Linked DNA regions of Homo sapiens. The protein of the gene in region 1 purifies or fractionates together with the protein of each later gene. This does not show direct contact. Each region holds a gene or a part of one and is shown in the gene's direction. Other genes may lie near its edges.

Region 1 (4,019 bases):
GTGGATGGCCCGCCTACGAGTCGCTGCCCGGCTGCCTTGGGTTTTCCTTGTGAATCAGCACTTGCTGCATGTGACCTCGCCAAGCAGGGGTTTCTGTCAACCCGCCCTCTAGGGATAAGAGGTCATGGACTTTTCCCTTTGGCTTTCATGTTGTTTGGAGTCCTCAAAATTTTCTCCAGGGCTCTGAGCTCTGGCCAAAAACCAGCTGGCAAGTCAGTTCCTTACTAGGTCCAGTGTTGAGGACCATGTTAGCGTCTGTGCCACGGGGCATGACTGGCTATGCACAGTCCTTTCCACCCAAACCGTGACTTGTGTGAAGAGCTCTCAGTTGGGGAATTTGGGGAGTTGTGAGACCTCATCCTAGGTCAAGTGTGATTGGGAGACCAAGGTTTCCAGTGAGAGCTGTGGTGTTTTCTTTCTTTTTTTTAATAATACTGTAAGTTCTATGTGGTGTTTTCATAGTCACAAAAATAAAGCAGGGCCATGTGTCAAGAGTCTCATGGTGGGGCTTCTTTATTTATGTATTTATTTTTCTAAATGGAGTCCCATTCTGTTGCCCAGGCTGGAGTGCAGTGTCTCAATCTTGGCTCACTGCAATCTCCGCCTACCAAGATCAAGCGATTCTCCTGTCTCAGCCTCCCAACTACCTGGGATTACAGGTATGCGCCATCACACCTGGCTACTTTTTTTGTATTTCTAGTAGAGACAGGGTTTCGCCATGTTGGCCAGGATGGTCTTAATCTCCTGACCTCATGATCCACCCGCTTTGGCCTCCAAAAGTGCTGGGATTACGGGCGTGAGCCACCGCGCCTGACCCTTGGGACTTCTTTACGTGTGTCCTGCTAGCTGCAGCATGTCCTCTTCTCCTCCAAGTAAAAGATGTACAGGGTCCCTGTCTGTGGGGTCTCAGTAAGTTGTAAGTTTCTTCATCTGCTTTCAGAACAGTGACCTACGTAGGCCACTCCTCCCATCCGGGCGTCCACCTTCAAGGTTGGCGTCTGCTGTATGATTCCATGGCTGGGCACTGTTGCCACTTCCTTCGGAGATGAGGACTGCTTTCCTCTGGCCACTGGTCAGTGGTCTCAGCAGCAGGAAATAGTAAAATAGTAAATGACAGGTCAGGGTGCTGCCAAGAGAGTGCAGGGGCAGGGATGGGGTGGGTCCCATCCCAGATGAGCCAGATGGTGATGCCATCTCTTCCTGCAGAGACTGAGGGGACATTCAGAGACGGGGTATGTTTGATGCCCTGTCAGCATCTGAGGCATCAGCCCTGGTTAAGCTGCGTTTAGCCTTCTCTCCTATGATACTTTGACACTCAGCCTTGCTCCCAGGAGGTAGGATAGTGTTTCCATTACGGAATCAAAGATGGGAACCTGGCTTCCTGGCATGATCCCAGCGGTGCTGGCAGTCTTTGCTGACTGACTTGGTGATGTGGTTTGGCTTTGTGTCCCCACCCAAAGCTCATCTGAGTCGCGATTCCCAGTGTTGGAGGAGGGGCCTGGTGGGAGGTGATCTGGTCATGGGGGCAGATTCCCCCTTGCTGTTGTGGTGATAGTGAGTGAGTTCTCAGATCTGATGGTTTAAAAGTGTGTGTGGCACTTTCCCCTTTGCCCTCTCGCTTGCTCTCTCTCTCTCTCCGCCCCCCCCACTGCTTCACCCATACTGTGCTTGCTTCCCATTTGCCTTCTGCCATGACTGTAAGTTTCCTGAGGCCTCTCAGTGGTGCTTCCTGGACAGCCTGCAGAACTGTGAGTCAGTTAAACCCAGGCCAGGTGCGGTGGCTTACACCTGTAATACCAGCACTTTGGGAGGCTGAGGAGGGCAGATCACTTGAGGTCAGGAGTTCTAGACCAGCCTGGCCAACATGGTGAAACTCCGTCTCTACTAAAATACAAAAATTAGCTGGATGTGGTGGCGTATGCTTGTAGTCCCAGCTACTCGGGGGGCTGGGGCAAGAGAATCACTTGAACTCGGGAGGCGGAGATTGTAGTGAGCCGAGATTGTGCCATTGCACTCCAGCCTGGGCGACAGAGTGAGACTCCATCTCAGAAAAACAAACAAACCTATTTTCTTCATAAATTACCCAGTCTTGCTTGGGTAGTTCTTTTTTTTTTTTTCTTGAGATGGAGTTTCGCTCTGTTGCCCAGGCTGGAGTGTAGTGGCGCGATTTCAGCTCACTGCAACCTCTGCCTCCCGGGTTCAAGCGATTCTCCTGCCTCAGCCTCCCGAGTAGCTGGGATTACGTACATGCACCACTATGCCCAACTAATTTTGTATTTTTAGTAGAGACGGGGTTTCACCATGTTGATCAGGCTGGTCTCAAACTCCTGGCCTCAGATGATCCACCCGCCTCGGCCTCCTAAAGTTCTGGGATTAAAGGTGTGAGCCCCTGTGCCCGGCCTGGGTAGTTCTTTAGAGCAGTGTGAGAATGGACTCACACATTAGGTTTAGAGTTAGGCTGCCTCAGACTCCAGCACATGTAAGTGCTGGTACTGGTTGAGGGCAGGGGCGTGTCCTGGCCTCGTTCGACCCCACACAATTTCCTCTCTTTGCAGGTGCAGCTCTGTCATTTCCACTCTGCTCTGCTGCACAGCAGGCAGAAGCCCTGGCCGTCCCCTGCTGTGTTCTTCAGGAGAAACGTCAGGGGCCTTCCTCCAAGGTAACGAGTCCTCCACGGGCATGCGCCTCTCACCCAGGCAGGCATGGATGGCGTCTGTGTGCATGCAGAGGTGGCAGTCGAGGGCCCAAGGCTGGACCTTCTCCTGTACCCACAACCAAGGCAGGATATGTTTGCTCCTCAGTGCGGTGCACTGGGACCAAAGACCCCCAGGGACCCATGGGACCGTGCTCAGGGGTGGGCACACCCTGATCACAGCATTTAGAGCAGACAGCTAGCAAATCGGGAAGGGTGCACATGGAGCGCCTGCTCTGAAGAGCAAACCGGGTCATTCAGAGCATGGAGGAGGGCGGGGTGACTATAGGTGGGAGTCACACAAGAGGAAGAGCAGCAAGAAGAGATGTGGAGGGATGGGTCTGAGCAGAAGGAAAGGCCAGACAATGTCCTGAGGCCAGCAAGTCCGGACCACAGTGCGCAGATGGACGGTGGCAAGGCAGGAAGGCCGTGGAGGGTAGATGTGGCCAGGCAGGGCAGGCAGGGTGAGCTGTCCAAGCGCCACTGGCTCAGTGAACCTGGCAGGGGTCTCCTTCTCCCGAGAGCTCTGCAGTAGGACAACCTGTGTCCCTGGGACAGATGCGGCCAGCTACAGAAACAGATGGGTGCTCAGGCGCCTGCGGCTGGGTGCAGAAACAGATGTGCACTCAGACACCTGCTGCACTCAGGATTATGGGCCGGGTGTAGAAACAGATGTGTGCTCAGGCACCTGCTGCACTAAGGATTATGGGCCGGGTGTAGAAACAGATGTGTGCTCAGGCACCTCCCGCAGTCAGAATTATGGGCCGGGTGTAGAAACAGATGTGTGCTCAGGCACCTCCCGCAGTCAGAATTATGGGCCAGGTGTAGAAACAGATGTGTGCTCAGGCACCTGCCGCAGTCAGGATTATGGGCCGGGTGTAGAAACAGATGTGTGCTCAGGCACCTGCTGCACTCAGGATTATGGGCTGGGTGTAGAAACAGATGTGTGCTCAGGCACCTGCTGCACTCAGGATTATGGGCTGGGTGTAGAAACAGATGTGTGCTCAGGCGCCTGCTGCACTCAGGATTATGGGCTGGGTGTAGAAACAGATGTGTGCTCAGGCGCCTGCTGCACTCAGGATTATGGGCTGGGTGTAGAAACAGATGTGTGCTCAGGCGCCTGCTGCACTCAGGATTATGGGCTGGGTGTAGAAACAGATGTGTGCTCAGGCACCTGCCGCACTAAGGATTATGGGCTGGGTGTAGAAACAGATGTGTGCTCAGGCACCTGCCCCACTCAGGATTATGGGCTGGGTGTAGAAGCAGATGTGTGCTCAGGCACCTGCCCCACTCAGGATTATGGGCTGGGTGTAGAAACAGATGTGTG
Region 2 (2,581 bases), on another chromosome or scaffold:
TGAAGTGAAAGGACTGTTTGAGCCTAGGAGTTCAAGACCAGCCTGGGCAACATAGCAAGACCTCATCTCAATTAAAAAAAAAAAAAAAAGAAGAATACATACCAAAGCAAAATATGTATTCTCTACTGGTCAATATTTGAATTTTGCCACTACCTCCCTCCATTAGCTTGGGAGAATTGAGATTTTACTTGATTTGATTTTAGCATTTGTATTTGGGGCCACTTAGGTGTTCCATGCTCATTTCTAGATCACATGCCATGAATTAAAGTTCTGACAAAAGAAGTCGTGACATTTTATTTAGTTCTTAAATGCACCTCACTTCTATTTGGAGCCAGAGAACTAGAGGCTTGGGATCATAGGAACCAGAGCATTTTGGTTGTTATGAGCTGAGACCTGTGCAAAGGAAGCAACTTCATTAGCAAGGCTCTTGCCCCCCACCACCCCTTCCTCACAGGTCACCTCTCTGTTCCCTGCAGACAGTGGTTCAGTTGGAAGGTGACAATAAACTGGTGACAACTTTCAAAAACATCAAGTCTGTGACCGAACTCAACGGCGACATAATCACCAATGTAAGTTGGTGGTGCTCTGAGCGTGTGGCTCCCAGTGCTTGAGGGGAGAGGGGAGGTGAAGCATGGGGAGCGGCTCACATACCCTAATGCCACCCCTCCACCCTCCAACCCCCAAACTTCTTTCCTGTGGTCAGTATCTGCCAGCACTTACTGAGGATCCATCATGTCCCAGGCAGTTTACACACATTATCACTAATCCTTTCTGCTCAGCGCAACCAACCAGCCACAGAGGCCTCCACCTGCCCTGCATGCCCAGGGTGCTTCATAAATGCCTTTGCCCATTTAGCGTTTATAAAGAGAATCCCATTCATGGTCATATTATGGCAGCTTACAAGCCTGGCACAGTCCAGTTATGCAGTCAGCCTTGGTGCCTGGCTGCCAGCCACATCCTGTACCCTATTTGGGGGTGAATGGTGCAGTGTTTCTCCTGCAGGTATGTCCCCCTGACTCTTCTTTGCCCCCAGAATATGCTTTAGGGAGTCACAGACAACAGAACACTGCCTCAGGGCGCTGTCATCACTCTATTCAAATGGAAAAATTCTTAAACTAGAGAGAGTGTGAGCATCAACCACCCAATGTGCAGTTTCCACCTCCGCCCCAGCACATTCCCAGGAGAGCAGGGGAGCAGGAGATGAGCTATCCTGCAGTAAGTCCTGGCCAACGCCCTTTGATAGGTTCCATCTCACCTAATCCTCCTGTCTCCTTCGAGGGAGGCTGGATGAGGGATTCAATAGACAGGTTGACCTGTCCAAGTCATCAGCTAATAAATGTTAAATCCAGGGCTCAAACCCATCAAGCAGCAACTATTGCATTGCTGCTGAAACTGAGGGGCTCCTTTTCACCCTGATGACATGGTATGTCATTCCAGCAGTCTTATTCAAGAGAACTGGCAGGGGTGGAGGAAACATCCTTAAAAACTCAAAAGCTGATGCATCCACTGTTTTTATATGCTTCACAGCTATAGGAGGACAATTATGCACTACCCACTGCCTTCCAGGCTGTGTGCCTAGTTGTGTCCATGTACATGTATCCTTGGTGCTCAACATGTATTTGGTGCATAGTAGGTACTCAATGAAATTTTGAGAAATTAGATTGGGCTGGTTTGGATGGTCTTGCTATAACAGTCATTGATGTAGAAAAGAATTCAGTCAAAGGCAGGAGGACTTTCCAGGTGAGGAGGAGAAGTGACAAAGACTTGGCATAGGATTTTGGAAAACATTGCCAACCTTTCCTCCGGTCCTACAGGAAACCAGACGAATTTTTGAATTGTTTCATATGCCAACATATTTGGTGCTGTTTTTTAAGCTTAATTTTGTTTTTTATGCTTAATTTTGTTTTTTACAATACAACATCAGATGAACACTTCATAATTTCTTTTCTGGCTTTCAGACCATGACATTGGGTGACATTGTCTTCAAGAGAATCAGCAAGAGAATTTAAACAAGTCTGCATTTCATATTATTTTAGTGTGTAAAATTAATGTAATAAAGTGAACTTTGTTTTAAAAAAAAATGTCTTCTCAATGCCTTTTCATTGATGGTGCTATTGCTCACCATATTCTCGTAAATATACTTTCGTAAATGTTGATAATCCACATGATCCACACTACCAGGTCAAATCCGAAGAGTAATTCCCTGAACACAAAACCCATGCTGCACACCCAGGTGTTCTGCCAGGAAAGCCAGGTGTGGCTAGATCTGCAGGAAGGCCCTGGAATGCCCTTTCCCAGTCAGGCACACGGGCAAGGAGCTGGAGCCAGAGGATGTGCAGTGGGCTGGCCTTGAGGGTGCTCTCTGTGGGGACAGGGAGCAGGAAGACTGGGCAGAAAAGGAGAGCTATACCCACAAGCACAGCCACAGTACCAGCCCACCAGCAGACAGGTGCAGAAAGGTCGACACTGACCCGCCCAATAAACTTTTCCTCCTGTGGGAGGCTGAGCAAAGGGCTTAGTGAGAGGCGCCAGAAGTGGACAGAGGAGGCTCAGTGGAAGTTCCCTCCATGCTATGGGCAGG

What was found.
Region 2: the proteins of ADCK5 (region 1) and FABP1 purify together in Homo sapiens (co-immunoprecipitation; one large-scale study listed by IntAct). This does not show direct contact.

What each region holds. Positions count from the first base shown.
Region 1 is NC_000008.11:144,376,832-144,380,850, forward strand, and holds part of ADCK5 (uncharacterized aarF domain-containing protein kinase 5), read left to right. Parts: intron 1-565; exon of another isoform or gene 566-659; intron 660-2,555; coding exon 2,556-2,659; intron 2,660-4,019. UniProt on the Homo sapiens protein: The function of this protein is not yet clear. It is not known if it has protein kinase activity and what type of substrate it would phosphorylate (Ser, Thr or Tyr).
Region 2 is NC_000002.12:88,122,482-88,125,062, reverse strand, and holds the end of FABP1 (fatty acid-binding protein, liver), read left to right. Parts: intron 1-476; coding exon 477-569; intron 570-1,958; coding exon 1,959-2,009; 3' UTR 2,010-2,081; downstream 2,082-2,581.